2 separate regions of the Homo sapiens genome follow, and region 1 is linked to region 2. A link means that fine-mapping ties the variant in region 2 to the expression of a gene that starts in the linked region. Tissue or cell type: whole blood. Region 2 holds a variant in brackets; the other region holds the start of a gene. All regions are shown on one strand. Distances are from middle to middle.

Evidence for each region.
Region 1: CDYL2 starts here. The variant in region 2 is fine-mapped to the expression of CDYL2 in whole blood (INTERVAL, PIP 0.99).

The regions. Positions count from the first base shown.
Region 1 is chr16:80,800,644-80,809,595 of GRCh38, reverse strand. CDYL2 (chromodomain Y like 2) reads left to right here and starts at 4,998. Exons shown (of 7, transcript NM_152342.4): 1 at 4,998-5,446. The coding sequence starts at 5,423. RefSeq lists silencers at 4,718-4,777, 4,798-5,107, 5,718-5,787, 6,068-6,217.
Region 2 is chr16:80,754,451-80,763,402 of GRCh38, reverse strand. The region is part of intron 1 of CDYL2 (chromodomain Y like 2); the gene reads left to right. Among named protein-coding and RNA genes, the nearest start is that of CDYL2, 46 kb to the left of the region's middle. The variant A/C (reference allele first, on the strand shown) is at 4,201.

The sequences.
Region 1 (8,952 bases), 46 kb before region 2:
GATTTGATTTGTGTCCTCCTTCATTTTGTTCAAATTTCTGTTGCAATGTCACCACCTTAGTGAGGTATTGCCTAAGCACCTTATCTAAGCCAGCACCCCTTCCTGTCCCCGGCACCCTCCATCTCAGTTCCTGTCGCTTTACCTGCTTCACTTTTCTTCCTACTTCACATCACTACCTGAAATAAAATTATGTATATATGTGTTTTATTTTCTTGGTTTATTCTGTCTCCTCTGTACTGTAAGCTCCATAAGGACACTGTTTTGTTCAACAAGAATAAGCTCCATAAGGGTAGGACACTATTTTGTTCAACAAGAATAATATCTAGCACACTGTAGATACTAAATAAGTATGACTTTAATAATAATAAACATTATTATGGAAGTAAAATATACCAAATGAATGCTGAAAATAAAGCCTAATTAGTAACAAGAATTTCTGCATAGCTTGAAAACAATACTCAGTTTGAAGGTTTTATTTGACTTACTGCCTTTCTATAGGAATCTTTGACATTCAAGGATATTAGTGACTCATATTAAGTTTGAAATGGGTAATAGTTGTCATTACAACAGGGACTATTACTCAGCCCTTATTATAGATGCTTTGCATGGATTAGCTTATTTAATTCTCAAAACAACTCTATGGGGTATCTATCACCTCAATTTATAGATAGGGTGTGGTGGTTTTAAACCATGTCCATAAATTCTTTGATAGTCCTCCCTTTAAAAGGTGGATTCTAATTTGCTTCCTTTTGAGTATGAGCTTGGCTTAGTGGTTCAGTTCTAAAGAATAGAATAAGTGACTATGTTTGGTGTCTAAGATGAGATATTCAAAGGCATTGTGACTTCCTCCTTGCTCTCTCTCTCGGATCACCCAATGTGGGTCTTGGTTTTTCCATCTTCAAAGTGAGGTGTGTGGATCAGATAACATCTCCAGTTATCCAACCTGACATGTCGTAAATCATCTGTGCATCAAATAGTCTTCTTAGCATGGACTATAACATCAGATTCGTTAGCTGCTCTGTGCTAGAAAGAGTTGAAGCTTTGACAGTTTTGCTTCATTTTGTTGGATTTGGGGGGCCAAGATCAGAATGACATGAGAACACTCAAGCAACTTTATGGAGAGACCCATGTGGCTAGGAGCTTAGGCCTCCTGCCAACAGCCATATGAGGGTGCCATCTTGGAGGTGGATTCTCCAGCCCAGCCAACCCTTCAGGTCAATGCAGTCCTAGCAAGCATTTTGACTGCAATCTCACAAGAGATCCTGAGCCAGAACCACCCCCAGTTAAGTTGCTGTCAAATCCACAACCCACACAAACTGTGAAATTAGAAAAACCTTTTGTTTAAAACCATTAAGTTTTGGGGATAATTCATCATGCAGTAATAAATAACACATACATTTGGAAATGGAAGGGTAGAGAGGTTAAACAAAGAGGCTGACACCAGATATCTAGTAGTGATGATGCAAGAATTGGAACCCAGGCCATCTGCCTCTGGAGCCCACATGTTCAGCCACCACAGGATACAGGAGGTCAAGATTATGTCTCAAGTAATACCGGAAGGAGAATATTGCCACATTTCAATGCCACTGTTAAGGCAGTGGATACGATCTTTCCTTGGACATTACACTTGCTGGTCTTGCTCTATTATATTAAAAAGGCCGTGTTCCAGGCAGCTACTGCCCTTGCTTCTAAGTTCCCTTTCTGTCTCAGATTTGTTTTGGCGTAAACACCTACCGTTTCAGTATTCCTTCCACCATTCCTTTAGGCTTCTGCTCAGACCCGATTCCCATCATGTAATTCTGGTAAAACTGCCAATTGTCATATTGTTCCCATAGATAGGAGTATGACTTAAGCCTGGCCAATCATAGTGTCCTATCAGTTATTGACTATGGTGATTGGACCAGTAAGACAGCATATGAGCTACATTGGCCCAATAGAGTCCTTCCCTGGGATTTAGAAATACTGTATAAGGCATAAGCCCAGGTGAGTGGCCAGGTGCCATATTCTCAGCTGCATGGAAGAAGCCTGTCTTCAGCAGGAAAGATACCAGCATGCAGAAAGAAGGAGAGAGTAAGAGAGGCTATTTTGTATCCTTTCATACCTTGAATCCGGCCAATCCTGAGAGCAATTCCATCCTTTTCTAGTCTATATGAGTCAGGAAATACTCTGTTGTTTTAAGTTAGAGCTTTCTATCAGTTCATCTTGAGTTACGACCAATATGAATAGTCTACCACAGTTTGTGGAAGATGGCAGCTATCTTCCATTCTCCATGAGCAACACTAGTTCTCTATCATCTGGAGAACCTAGAGCCTCACTGTTAATTGGTTGGGCTGAACTTCCTACAGTGGGTGAAGACCCTTCCCCCCTTCATCCCTCAGGAAGCACCTGCCTTTTCTGGAAGCTAGCCATGGTCTGGGGGTAAGCTCAAAATAAAATTGTGTTATGACGGATGGGTAGCTCAGTCACTCAGTTTAAAACCTTAGTCATCTCTGTATCCTTTCCTTAGTCGCGGCCCCTCCCCAAGTCCTCAATGCACACACATCCTGTTAGTCATCAAGTCCTGTTGATCTGAATCGAATGCTTCATGGAAGTAGGTGGAGTAACCATAATGAAAGTTAGCCTGGTTCTTCCTTCTGAACATCTCGCAAATCCCATTTTTCTTCTTCATTTCCACTGCTAACACCAGGGACCATTGCAATTGGTCTCCCTGCCCCTAACCTCAAACCCTGCAGTTGATTTCCCATATTTCTTCTAGAATTTGTTTTCTACAGTGCACTTTTGATAGTCACATGCTTTTGATTGATTCAAAAGTCTTCATCAGTTTCTCCACTGTTGACCTACTAAATAGCAAACTTCTTAGCTTGGCTTTCAAGACTATCTCCGAACTGACCCACATTCACCATCCAGGGTCCTGTGACCTCCATAAACCAGTCCTCCAATCTTCTCATACCCTTCCCATAGCAGAATTGCTTACCATCTACTCTGACTTCTTCTCCTCACGGAAAACACTGTCCTTCCTTTTCTATGAGTCTTCAAGATCCATTTCAGTCCTAAAACATTTCCTGAGCATGGTCATCCACACTAAGTATCCTCTTCTGTGAACTCTGTAAACAACTGTTGTCTAGACTAGGGTTTTTCAAACTGCACTCACATTCTCAGGGAGTACTTGGCCAGTACAAGTCAAGCTTTTGGTGTTTTTGTAAAACTACTGATTATATATTCAAATTTGGCTTAGTATATTATTTCCAAGCCCAGTTTCCTTCTTGTCTTCTTCCAAATTACATCCTCATGCTATGGTGGTGCATTTATTCGTGAGTACAAATTAAGACTCATTAAAATTTGTTTAGCTACCTACAGATAGAGAACTGCTTATTATTACTGTTATTATTTAAAACCATGACCACCGGGAAAATATCAATATGAAGAGAGAAGTTCTATAACAATTTCAACAGTTTCTAAGCCAAATATGCTTTCTGATTTATTAATTCCTTATCCTCACCATTTTTTCCTTATCTTCATGCGGGATTTTAACTAGAAATTGGTATAAAATTTGTTATATTGGCATAGTTCGAAAAACAATCACTGTGTACCTACTCTCTCTCAGGAACAGTGGAAGATGCTTGCGATACAAAGATAAACAAGCCCCTATACGAAGAACAAGAATGTTCCAGATGGATTCAATGTGGAAGGACATTCTAGGCAGGGGGAACAGCAAATGCAAATCCATGTGTCCTGGAATGAGCCAGACATGCTTCAGGTTCCATGGAGTTTTTTTTTTTTTTTTTTTTTTTTGGATTAAAAAATTTGGTGACTTTTCAAAGTTTGACAACCTCAGGATTAAACAATTTATCGAGCCCCTCTGCCATCTCACTCTCCATGAGGGCAGTCCAGGTTGAGACTCAGATACAAATCACCTTTATTGAGTTCTGCTGGGATGGACAGGTCACTTCATGTATACGTAGATCCTCTCCTTAATTCTATTTAAATCACTTAGGTGACTATCACCATCTCCCATCAGGGTTCGGTGACCTGCCCACAGCCTCCCAAGTAGAAAATGATCCAGGGAGCATGTGAGTTAATGATACATCACATCTGGAGCCAGGCAGGCATTTCATGGGTGGGGATGAAGATCTTCCCTCCAATTTCAGAAGTCTGACCTTGCAGGTTCTGAAGTAACTATATACATAAATATTTATAAGGAGAACCCTTTAAGCAGAGGGGTGACCATTTATCCATGAGAGATGGCTTAGGAACGGATTTGGGTTTTGGAGAGCTTCTCTAGCTCCTCCAGCTCCGCAGCCTGTCACACGCAGGATGACCTTTTAGAACAACTGAGTGCTCCATTACACTCCTCACTTGCGGATTCAAACTGTCTCTGGGCAGGGTCCCAGTTTTGCCTGTCCAGGGACACTGTGCACTTGGGTTGACTTTGGTAAATGTTTGAGTAAGGGATGAGTGAATAAATTCGGGGAGAGGGGTTGTTGAGGGAAGGCCACCCCTGGCTCTAAAGACTTTCCAGGGTTTATGGGGTGGCCACGCCTGTCCTGGATCCCCATGGTGCCTCTGGATGGGCCATTTCATCCTTCCTCCCTGTGGCCTCCACATCTTACAACCCAGCCTGGAGGGAGGGGCCGCGCAGCCCCGAGGGGCCAGGTCTCCCAGGCGGCGTCCACTCCCCTCGAGGGTGGAGGAGGTAGGTGGGGACCCCGGGCCGGCGGGGCTCGGCTGGGGCCCCTTCCCTGAGGTCTGCAGCCGCAGCCCTCTACCTGGCTCCCCGGCCGCCCCTTCGCGGCCCCAGATCGGGCGCACCCGGCGGGCACCTGGCCCGCCGCCCCCCGGGGGCCCCGCCAGCTGCTCCCGAAGCCGGCCCGGGGTGGCGGGGCGGGCCCGAGCGCTAGTCGACTCTGGGACCGGTCCCCCGGGGCGCGGCCGGGCAGCAGCCCCCGCCTCCCCGCCCCGGGGGCCGGGCCGGGCTCCCGGGGGGCGGGGACTCGCCCAGTGGCAGCAGCGTCCGGGCCGGCGGCGGGCGCCGGGCGGCTTCCTGCAGGCGGCGCCGGGGCGAGCCGTTGCCGGCTGCAGCCACCGCCGCCGGGTCGCCGGGTCGCGGGGGCCGCGGCGCTCGGGCCGCGTCCGTGCCTCCCGGGCGCGCTGCGCGGCCGTCGCTGCTGCCCGCGCTCGTGCCGCCGCCGCCGCCGCCGCCGCTGCTGCCGGTTACGCCAGCCCCGCCGCCGCCCGCTCTGATTCTGCGCATAGGCAGCCCCCAAGCCTGTCATTCTGCAAAAACACAGTTTACTCAACACACCACACACACTCGCACACACACGCGCGCACACACACGCGCACACCGGACCCCGCGCGCACACGCACGGAGGGCGCGAGCGAGCAGACGCGCACACCGGCGAGCCAAGTTCCGCAGCCTGGCATGGCTTCTGGGGACCTTTACGAGGTACGGGGACGCGGGGGCGCGGGCCGGCCCCAGTCAGCGGGCGGCGGCGGGCGGCGGCGGCGGGCGGCGGGGACCGGGCCGGGGCCGGGGCCGGGCGCAATCCGGAGTTGCCGAGCCCGCGGCGGCGGCGGCGGCGGCCGGAGGGTGGCGGGGGCCGGGCGCGCCTCCCGCCCGCCGCCCGCCGCCCGCCGCCTCCCGCGGCGCCCGCGCCCGCTCCCTCTTTCTCTTTCTCTCGCACACACACTCTCTTACTCCATCTACTTTGCGGCCTTGGAGGGGAAGGAGGAAGCCGGGCGGAGCCGGGGCGGGGGAGGTAGCGGTCCCGGGGAGGTGTTTCTCGCCCGACGAGCCGCCTCGAGTACAGAAAGTACAGGTAAAAGTCGGCGCCGGACGTGCTGGGAATGCGGGGGGGCGCGCCGCGGCCGGCGGGGGTGTGGGGCGGGGGTTGCGCGGCCCGGCTGGGCCGGGGGCGCGGGGGAGGAGGGGGGCGGGCGATCGGAGCGGAGCCTGGCCGGGGCGAGGCGGGGTCCCGGGGGGCTGCGAAGGGGGAGGCTGGGTGGGGGTTCGGGGGGACAACCGCCAAACCGCTCCCCGGGGTCCCCGGGCCACCTCCCTCACCCCCCACCTGCTGCCCCCGCACCAGCTCGGACGCCCTCCGGGCTCGGGCGTGGGGGTGGCCCTTGCGGGTGTCGTGCTCCCTGGGGGCGAAAGGGGGCGCTGCGGAGGGCCCTGGGTGGGAGGAGAACGTGGAAGTCTGAGGTGTTGGGGACATAGGACACAGATGCCAGCCCAGCGCCCAGTACTCTCGTCACCCTCAGTGGATACCTGGCTCCAGGTCCTAATGAGTAGTGGCCAGCGTTGGATACTCTCATGTCTTCCCAAAAGTGGCGAAGGAAGACATTAGTCTGGCATCTTTCAAACAATGGAGGAACACCCATGGTCTTTGGGGAGCAAGGGCTTAGGAACACAACTGTTACTGCTTTGGGTTTTCCACAAGTGGACAACACAAGGAACAGCCAGCCACCACTCCCCAGAGGGAATGGCCTCAGAGGTGTTGGCCGCCAAGACCAGGTTCAGGATAAAGAAGTTAAGAGACCAGCCATCTTCAACCAGAGGGCCTTCTGGGCCTCCGTGAAACCAGCCGCATGGGTTAGCCTGGACCTGCACTTCCCGGAACATAAATTGGTTAACGCCATCTGGTTCTTAAGGCTTTGGGGCTCCATTGAGATAAGCACCCAGAAGGGGTAGAATTAGCCTTTTGCATAAGACATTGTAGGGTGATCCACCCACGACAGACTGCAGGGGGTGATTCCTAAGAAGCTCTTTCCTCTAGGCCCTCGTGGGCAGTTGAAGCTTTTTCAGGTGGTGGGTTTGCTGACTGGCGTTAGAGAAGAAGAATGGAGAAAGGAGCACAGGTCTCCTGTGTGACCATGTTCTTGTGAATGATTCTGGAGTTGGTGAGGCCCAGGCCTGGACTGCCGGCCAGCAGGTTCAGGTGGGGTGGGTGGGAGACCTTAGAGCTCCTTGAAAGAATGGTGTATGTTGCCCTCTTCACTACCCTGTGGCCGTCCTCATCTCTATGCTAAGAGACAAGGTGAAGTTGGATAGAGATCTTGTGAAGAACTTCGGCAAATGTGGCCAATGGATCACCCAAGCGCCTTGGTCTGTTTCAAGATGGTGGAACAATTTCTGAAATTGAAAATTGAAGCACAGTAAAATAGAAGGTTTGATTGAGTTTCCTTATGTGTAACCAGTACTGTGGGGACATTGGCTAAAAGTAGATATTGTTTAGGGGTGAAAGTGATCTGGTTGGAATCATGGTTTTCTACGAATTGAGGTTGAGTCAGCTTAGAGCTGTTGACCTTGCCTGAGTGAAAAGTTGTGTCTTGAAGGTGTTAAGAGGATGTACTAGGAGTCATCAGTATTTCCCCATTTAAAGTTTAGAACTTATGAACCTTCTGGGGATAATTTCTTGTTTAATGTTCATCTGCAACTGCCCTCCTTAACGCTGGTAATTGTCGTTGCCAGATTAGTCTGTTAAGAGGAGAGTTTTCACGGTGGCCTTGGAACTATCTTAGTATCTCAAGAGTTTTTATAGAATTTCAGTTAAGGAGGACAATAATAATAATTACTTCTGTGATAGTAGGTAATTGTACTAGATGGAAAATGGCTTTCCCATGGCTGATTATTTGCATAGTCATTACTAAAAGGGCTAAATTGCATTACGAGAATATAACGAATGTCAACATTTTTATAGCCTGTGTCTACATTACATAACATATACTGAGAAATTTAATTTATTGTTCAAATTTAGCTTTAAGAACAATTAAGAAGTGCTAAGTGTACATTAGCATATATATTTCTGACTGTAAAGTTGTTATGTGGGTAAAAAGTAGCATATTGATTTAAGAAAAATATTGGAATATCCAGTGTATGTTGACTGGCCTTGAAAGGAAAAAAAGAAAACAGATTTCATTCTAAATTATGAGACCTGTTTATTACTTTCATTAAATATTATACTAAAGTGTACATAAAATGGCTTCTCGCAATCTCTACTCAAGAAACCACGTTTTTAGTGGGCCAAGAGTTCTTACGTTTGTAATTGATATATTTCACCTGTGTGTCTGCTGACATTATCTTTGAGCCTTTATGGTGAAGTGTGATTTGGATTGTAGAGATTCTTCATCTTTTCTTTGGCATTTCAGACAATTAAGTTGTAAAGAGTGAACCTCCATAAAGCAGTTGTTAGGAATAGGTGCTGATTTTTAAAGACACCAGAAAACGAAAACTTTGTTTATGTAATAGCACTCTTCAATCATAGTGAAGAAATAAGAAATCAAGCTCAGGTTCCAAAATCTTGGATCTTGATAGATAGTTCTGGTTTGTTTCTCCTGTAGTGGAGTTCTCATCATCTTCTGGTGCATTGTAGCCATCACTTATAGGAAGGTGATTTTAAATTTTGGGTTATGTCTTAGAGTCAGGTATCTGTCTGGATCGAAAGTGAAATTTCTTAGCCAGATGCCCTGGTCTATATTCGGCTAAACATAGGGGCCATGGAGTGGCAGCCTGTGAGCCAGGTCTAGGCTGCATACGCATTTTGACTTGGCTCAATGGTAGATAAGAAAAACGATTTGAACACTTTTAGATGGAGCATATGATCTCTAGCTTGTCCCTGTCCCCTTGCTCCCTATTACCAGGCACCCATTCTTCTTAAATCATTCACTGGGCTCCAGTAGACTTTAGAGTTTGCAACCTGATTCTAGTCAATCTTTTGCTAAGATGTTTGGGTGTCAGGAAGAAATAATCAGTGGGATAGGCTCTCAGTTTTCTTGTCTCTCTCTGGGTTTCTACCTGCTTGTACGTTCAATTACTTGTTGACTGAATCAGTGAGCAGAAGACTGGTTTAAGTATATAAAGTACCCTTGTGTGACCTTCGTTGTCCTTCTGTTGAGTGTTACCCTCTATTGTCTTTTTCTTTCCCAAGCTCATGGCCTCTTGGTGGTGGT
Region 2 (8,952 bases):
CTGACCTCAAGTGATCTGCCCGCCTCGGCCTTCCAAAGTGCTGGGATTACAGGTGTGAGCCACCTCACCCAGCCCTGGTGAAAATATTCTATTCTTTGTTGGAGATAATGGGGATAGGTTAGCTGTTGAGTAGCCACAGTTGATTCTCGTTACTTGTGGTTCTCATTACCTTTATTACATTCTATAAAGTTGCCCTCGAACACCGGATTAGCAAATGCTGAATCGTTGCTTCTGGTGGGAATACAGGATTAGTTAGGTTCCTGCTGGAGTGCAGTGGCACAGTCTCAGCTCACTACAGCCTCAACCTCCTGGGCTCAAGTGATCCTGCCGCCTCAGCCTCCCAAGTAGCTGGGACTACAGTTGTAAGCCTCTGGTCACAATGTTTCTGTCAACCATTTAATATATAACCTAATTTTATGGTGTGTTTCTCTTTAAAGACACATTATTAAATATATATTGTGGATCATTAACATTGAACTCATGGCCAGCAGTACTGTAGCTCATGCTTGAATGAAGCTCACAGATGTAACACACACATTCTGTCCTTAGGCACATGACAGTCTTCTTGCATTTAGGGACACCAGGGAGCAGAAAGGACACGTCTCTGCCCTATGAGAGCTCAAACAAGAAGGCAGAGAGTCACCTTGCTTCACCTCAGCTGGACACTTGCAATTGATGACATGAATTTTCCACTGCTTTGTGCTTGTGCCCAAAAGACTGGACAAGCTCCAAAAGGATAATTTTGGGGTTACAAATACTTTATAGACAGTAGGTGAATTAGCAGGTATGAAATACATGAATGAGGTCAAGTGTAGTTTTCTCTGGCACCATGGCAGCAACTTTTCCAAGCAGTGGCGTGACCTCTGCATCACGCTTTGGCCTGAAATGACTTGATGCCATCTGACGCTTTGGCGATTGTGAGTTCCTTCTGGGTTTTAGCGTTGCCCACCGTGTTCAGGCTTTTTGGAGCTGTGCTGCTTGTATGGACTGTAGTCATATTCTGCTCTTTCCACGTTTGGTTTGCTCCCGTTGAAGCCTGGCTCACCTCTTTGCACAGTCGTGCTTTCTTACGTTCTTTCTTCTCTTCCTTGCGATGGTCTGCATTTGTATAGTCAGAATTTCACTCTGCGACTCTTCTGAAGTTCATTTGAACTTTATTCCTAGCGCTTCTGGACAATAGATGTAGCCTTTGTTTTTTTGTTTTTTATTTATTTATTTTTGAGACAAGTCTCACTCTTGTCCAGGCTGGAGTGCAGTGGCATGATCTTGGCCCACTGCAGCCTCGACTTCCTGGGCTCAAGTGATCCTCCTGCCTCAGCCTCCCGAGTACCTGGGACTACTGTTGTGTACCACTATGCCTGGCTAATTTTTGTATTTTTTGTAGAGATGGGGTTTTGCCATGTTGCCTGGGCTAGTCTTGACCTCCTGGCCTCAAACAATCCTCCTGCCTTGGCCTCCCAAAATGCTGGGATTTTTGTGCACCACCGTGCCTGGCCAGTCTTTGTTTTTTTTTTTTTTTTTAATTTTCTCCTTTATTAGATTGAACATTCACATGTTATTTTATGTGCATTATATTTAATAAGTAACTTTCAAATATCCAAAGTAGTTTTCCCAGCATCTTCTTTTGTATTTTTATTAACATATAATAGTTGTATGTATTTTAATAGATGTAGATATACCTTTTGAATCTCAAAATATGTTTTAGTTTTCTAAAGTTAGGGCTTTCACATCTAAGTCACCTGGGGGCTCCTATAAGATCTGGTCTTCCTGGCCTCTCTCAGATCTATTGATTCAACAATTGCAAAGGATGATGTGTTGAAAAGGCTCCGCAGGTGATTCTGATCTACAGGGAGGTGGGAGCCAGGGAACACTCATTTTGAGAGCTGTGGCAGGACTGTCAATAATTAAAAAGAAGAACCTTCAAGACCACCAGCACCACCACTCTTGGGGCACTTTTACTAGACGTCAAGCTCTCTACTAAGCTCTGGGTGTGTTATAATCTTACAACAACCGTTTGATGAAAACGCATACTTCGATGAACCCAAATTCACAGATGAGGAAACAGAAGCTCACAGTGGTAAATAACTTTTCCAAAGTCACACAGGTCCTCAGTGATAGATTGGAACCCAGATGGCTGCCTGGTAACCACAGGTGGTTCAACCTGGAGCCCCACCAGAATCCCCTGGCGGGCTTGTTCAAACAGATTGCTGGGCTTCACCTGCTGAGTTTCTGATTCAGTAGGTCCCTGGTGGGGCCTGAGAATCTGCATTTCTGAGAAGTCTCCCCCCAGCCAGGTGATGCTGGCGTCCTTGTACCCTCTCTCCTTTGTGGGACTGAGTGTATGGCTTTTTCTTCACAATTAACAACGCTCTACATTCTGAAGTCTATTGCACATTGTCCGTTTGGTTGCCATCACCTTCACTGCCCAGGCATTAATAATTTGGTTTTTGTCACCTTTGCGCATTAAATCCACAGACGCACCGGCCCTTAATGTTTCTTTTTCCCCTTTAAGAGACAGCTCAACATCAGGGTGAGTGCAACCTTCAGTTTCTATGATTTCAAGAATACGGCCCTGGATAACTGTTCAACTCTGAATGTTCTTGCTCTAATTTCATCTATCCTGCATTCTAGATGGACTGCCCCCTCTGGTAGTTAGTTGATCTGTTTGGCTTATAAGATTTTTATCCCCCAGTCAATAATAGAAGCGTAGGTGAGAAGATACTTACAAGGAATACAATGATTTTGACACTGTTTTTCTTTTTAAATTTTTAATTTTTGTGGCGACATAGTAGGTGCATATATTTATGGGGTATACGAGATGTTTTGATGCAGGCATGCAATGTGTAATCATTACATCATGGACAATGGGGAATCCATTCCCTCAAGCATTTATCCTTTGTGTTATAAACAATCCATTGACACTCTTAGTTATTTTAAAATGTACAATTACGTTATTATTGACTATAGTCACCCTGTTGTGCTTTCAAATAGTAGGTCTTATTCATTCATTCTATTTTTTTTGTACTCATTAACTATCCCCATCTCCCCTCCAACCCCCCACTACCCTTCACAGTCTGTGATAGCCATTCTTCTATTCTCTATTGACACTGTTTTTAATGAGCCAGAGGCAGTGAACTTTCTCAAGTGTGTAACAGGAGGCTTTCTTAGGGACAGTTGCTGGTGCAGTTAAACTGCCTAGTTGAGGTGTGCCTTGCCTCGCACAATAGATTAATGCATCCCCAAGTTGGATAATATCGTCATGCATGAAAGCAGCCTGCTAGTCTAAGGGAGTCCTATAGCAAACCATCTTTATAAAGTGAACAGTGACACCCAATTTATAAATCTAAATTTTCGCCATTTTCTTAAAATGAAATATAGTTTCAAACTGGGGTACTAATGTCTGAAAAGGTTTTATGCCTCTACAGTTAATTTACCCTGAGACAGTAATTTCTAGTAACTCTAGTCATTTCTAAATAGTCTGAGTCAGTTTTCCTAGAATTTAGGACAGGACCTCAAAAAAATACAGTTCAAGCTCTTTCCCCATGTTTCAGGGAATCTTAGAATTCCCCTGGTAGTTTCCTGGTCTTAGGGAATCTTTTACAAGTGTGTTTAGGCTTGAAGTGGTTTGTGCAATTGCTGAATGTGTTGTTGTTATGCAGTCGTGTGTTGACTTTTTCTCAATGCAGTTCTTCCTCATGCACTTGCATCTTTATGGTTATACATTTACTTCCAGGTATCATTTCACTCTCCTAAATGTGTTTTTCCACCTCAGAGAAGCCACAGAAGTAGCAAACACTAACCCAAACCAAAAGGAACAATTTGATCGATGCACTCATAACCATCATCACAAAACTTTTCCTGCCCACTGATTCAGCCTGTTGTTTTAAAATGAGATAATATTTAACTGGCATATTGGTCATGACTCATCGATAGTTAACAATCATTTTGTTTCCTGACAATACACATTTGAGTTCAGTTCGTATTGAAGCGCTTGACAAAAAAATCACATTGCTTAGGACTAGACTTTCTGTGCACATTTCACAATTTTTAAAACATTAACCTTTTTTCAAATTTCAAGTGTCATCTCCATTCACTGTGGAAAATGTGAAGTATTCAAAAGGCACAAATATACCCAACACAGAAATTATGCATACATCCATCACTCAGAGACACTAACCTATATCATAGGTAGATTAACAT[A/C]TCAAATTATATATATATATACACACCATATATATATATATAAACCATATATTTATATAAACCATATATATATATATATATATATATATATATATATATAGTATATGGTTTGTAGATATTACATTTATACCCAGGTATGTACATATGGGGTCATATGTCTTAGTATGCTGTAACATGTGTTTTCCATTTAGCAATTATTCAAATATTTTCCTGGGTCAGATATTTTTCTACACCAAAATTCTTAATGTCTGGTTAGTATTTTCTTATATTATAGAACCCAGAGGTACTGTGATTTCCTTAACCAGTCTTCGGAATTTTAGAATATTTCTGATTTTTTGATATGATTAGAAGTGCTGCAGCAGGCCGGGCGTGGTGGCTCACGCCTGTAATCCCGGCACTTTGGGAGGCAGAGGCGGGCGGATCAGGAGGTCAGGAGATTGAAACCATCCTGGCTAACACGGTGAAACCCTGTCTCTACTAAAAATACAAAAAATTAGCTGGGTGTGGTGGCGGGTGCCTGTAGTCCCAGCTACTCGGGAGGCTGAGGCAGGAGAATGGCGTGAACCAGGGAGGCAGAGCTTGCAGTGAGCGGAGATCGTGCCACTGCCCTCCAGCCTGAGCGACAGTGTGGACTCAGTCACAAAAAAAAAAAAAAAAAAAAGTGCTGCAGCAAACTTCTGTATTTATGTGTTTACACACTTGTATGGTATATTAAAATCCTAGAAAAAAGCGTTTCTGCATCCAGTGTTGTACACATTTGGGATTTTGATTCTTACTTCGAAATTACCTCCCCAACCCCTTGCAAAACCACCTCAAGATGTACATCTAGGTTTTTTATACTTTTGTTTATTATTGTAGTTATTACTTTTGTTTATTATTGTAGTTATTATTACTTCTATATGTAAGTTATCTGGAATTTATTTTATACTAAATTTATTTTGGTGTAAAGATAGGGGTAAAATGTCTTAGCTAAGTTCTTTTCTGTGTAACTAATTATTAATAATTGGTGTCTAACACCGATTATTGACTAATCCATTTACTTCCCATTTATATGAAATCTCACATTTACCAACAATTAAGATCATTGATCTATTAATATTTCTGGACTTTTGATTTTTTTCAGTTATCTAATGTCTTATTCTTCCTTAGATACCATACCTCTGTATTGGAATGCCTTATTTTATTTATTTATTTATAGTAAAGCCTTCCTTGTATTCTTGTGTTTCGAAGTTTTATTGACTACACTAGCCCAGTTATCTTACATATGAATTTATGGAGTCAATTTTTAAGTAAAATAAAATCTTAGTAGCTGGGATCAGAATGGTATTTATTAGTAGACTTGGAAAGAATAGACTCATTTATAATAGGCCAATTGGCTTATCTCTCTAATTTACCTAGGTCTAATTAGGTCCTCCAATAATTTGTTATTTTGATTTGTGTGGATTTTACATATTGTTACATTTTTCCCTAGGTATTTTGTTCTGTTCAATTTTGCTTTTGTTGTTATTATGAATATACCTTTCCCTGTTAAATATATAAAATGTCAAATAAATATATAGATATCAAATATTTATCAAAATGGCAAATATTTTGATATAAAATATCAAATATTTTTCAAAATATATGTGTGTGTGTATATATATATATATTTTTTTTTTTTTTTTGAGACAGAGTCTTGCTCTGTCACTCAGGCTGGAATGCAGTAGAATGATCAAGCTTACTGCAGCCTTGAACTCTTGGGCTCAAGCAAGCCTCCCCTCTCAGCCTCCTGAGCAGCTAGTACTACAGGCATTCACCGCTACACACAACTAATTTTTAAGTATTTTGTAAAGACAGGGTCTTGCTATGTTGCCCAGGCTGGTCTCGGACTCCTAGGCTCAAGCATTCCTCCTGCCCCAGCCTCCCAAATATATTTTTTGCTTGTTAATTTTATAGGGTAAACTATTGGTTATTGAATACTTATTTTATAGCCTGCTATGTTTGTGACTCTCTTTTAGTTATTAAAGTCTGCTTGTCTTAGTTGATATTTTAACTTCAATTGTATCCTAAGCAAACAGTGGTCATTTTCTCTGTCTGTCCTGGTAATTGAAGCTCTTATTTCTTTTACTTGCTTTGTTTGGTAGGCTAGCATTTTTTTACTGGTGTTACATATTAATTGTGATGGGAGTCTTACCCATGGTTTTAATGGGAATGTCATTATTACATCACCATAAGTATGATGTTGGCTGTTAGTTTGAGACTAGGATTGTTCTTTTGGTCTTAGTTGACTATTTTTTAAAAACAGGAAATGACTTATCAGATGCCTTTGAAAAATTAATGAAATCATGTGTTTTTTTTTTTACTAATTTATACGATGATAATGCTAATTTATAACTTCTTTTTCTGGGACCAATCTCTGCTGATGGAAGTATATTTTCTGCTGTTATACTAGTGGATTTAAAAATATTTTATTTAATTTTTTAAAATGAATATTCCTAAGTGACACTGGACTGTGGTTTTAGTGTGTACTGTGCATTATTAGATTTTTCTGTCAAGGTCATTAAATGTTATAAAATGAGTGGAAAAGTGTTCCTTTTTTTACTGTCGTCTGAAACATTTTATAATGCTTCAGAGATCATTCTTAACAGCCTTTTCAAATTCACCTATAGCTTTTGGTTAATTTGATGTTGTTTATTTTTATTGTCAGTTGTGTTCATTTGTATTTACCCAAAAAATTCCTTGTTTCATTGAGGATTTTCAAATTTATTGTTCTAAATAATTTCCTCTCATTTTTGAATTACTGCCATTTTTTGTTATATATTCTTTTATTCTTGTTAACAAATTCCCTTGTTAAATATTCCTCATTGTGTGTGTTTGTGTTTTCTCATTTTCTTTAAATAGACTAGACAGAGGTTTGTGGATGGTAGAATTTGTTTTGGGTAAGGTTTTTCAGAGAATTGAGTTGGACCACTATTTGGTTTTTAATGAATAAATTTCCACTTTTAATTATGTTAATGCTTCATTTCTGTTTTTCTTAGTTTTTATTTTGTTGTTCTCTTTTTAACTTCTCAAGTTGGACCACTGGTGCGTTTAGTTTTATCCTTTCTTATTTAATGACAACATCATTTAATAATTTTCTTATGATTGTAGTTTTGGCCATATCACTATTATGAATTATTATGTGTGTTATTATCATTATTGCTATTTTCTAACTAATTTGTAATTCCATTTCTTTACCCCTTGACCCAGTAGTTATTTAAGAGCATGTTTCCTAAATGACTAAGGGTATAGTAGACTTTATTTTAGAGCAGTTTTAGGTTTACAGAAAAATTCAGCAGAAAGTACAGAGTTCCCATGTATTACCTCCCCCTGCTCCCATAGTCTCCACTGTTTTAACATCTTCTATGGGTGTTGTACGTTTGATAAAATTGGAGAAACAAATATTCATACACTATCATTAAGTTACATCCATAATTTAAGTTAGGGTCTACTTTTTGCATTGTACAGTACTGTTGGTGTTGTCAGATGTTCTTTGTGATTTCTTTGTAACTCTGTGATGAGCATTTTGTATTTTTCTCTATCTCAGGTACTTAGGATAAGTTTCTGAGGATAAGTATCTCAAATGTTTGCTTGGGATAAGTTTCTAGAAGCAAAATGAGCAGGTCAAAGGGTAAGGATGTTTTCTAGGCTTTTGATAGATTTGGCCAGATTCTTTATTGGCCCTGTGAACCATTAGGGAAGCTATGCCATTTCTTGGCTGTAGGTATTCAGAGTTGTTTTCCACAGGATGTCAGGTCTCTCTGCAGATAAACTGTGAAGTGCCGAGTATGGGCTCTGGTTCTCCACTGATTTCTGTTTTTCCTGAGGGGGACTCTTAGGTGAGGGAGCAAGGAAGCCCTTCCAATTCACCTTACATGGATTCAAGATGTCCAGACTCCTTGGTAATTAAAGGCTAAGATTCAGGTTTCCTCCATTCTCCAAACACAGCCTCTTAGAGTCCCTACTGCCACATAGGAGAAATTTACATTTGCTGAGTAACCAGGATGGACATGTCACATACTTTGTCATCTTAAAATATATGTGTGCATTAAATAGGATGTGGATGAGGAAACCAAGGCTGTGAGAGGGGAGGTGAGGGCTGAAGTCCAAGGTCAGCGGCTGGTTGAGGATTTAAGCACAAGTCTATTTGGCTCCCAAGCACCTGCTTTTTCCCTTCAGCTGAAGGGCAGGCTTTGTTGGTGGGTGACTGCCCAAGTTCCAGAAGTGAAATCCTAATGATATTTCCCCTCGTAAATCATGGGGGCATCTCATTGAAACAGCAAATGTCTACCTTCCCATCTGATACCCTGCTCCCTTCCCTGATACAGGAGGCTCCCCTGGGAGCCCTTTGATTTCCCAGTTTATTAATTTTTTAGAAAGAAAGAGAGCCAAACCCCATCACACTCCCTTTGCAACTCTAAAAGCTCAAACTAATAACTTATTGAGCTCATGCTCTATGCCAGGTGTGCTATGTGTATTCCCTCACGGAATCCTCCCTGATGTGGAGTTAGTACCATCTGCATTTTACTGATAAGGGAAGTAAGGCTTACAACAGCTAAGTGACTTGTCCAGAGTCACAGCACTGAGAAGCTGTGGAGCCAGGAGGGTGGACGCTAGACTGCCTTCATCTACAGTATTACTCTTGACCACGTGAGGCCACAGTTTATGGAGCATAATGGGTCTGACGGTTCTCGGATTCTGGTATATTTTCCAAACTCCGGAAAGTTCCTCTGC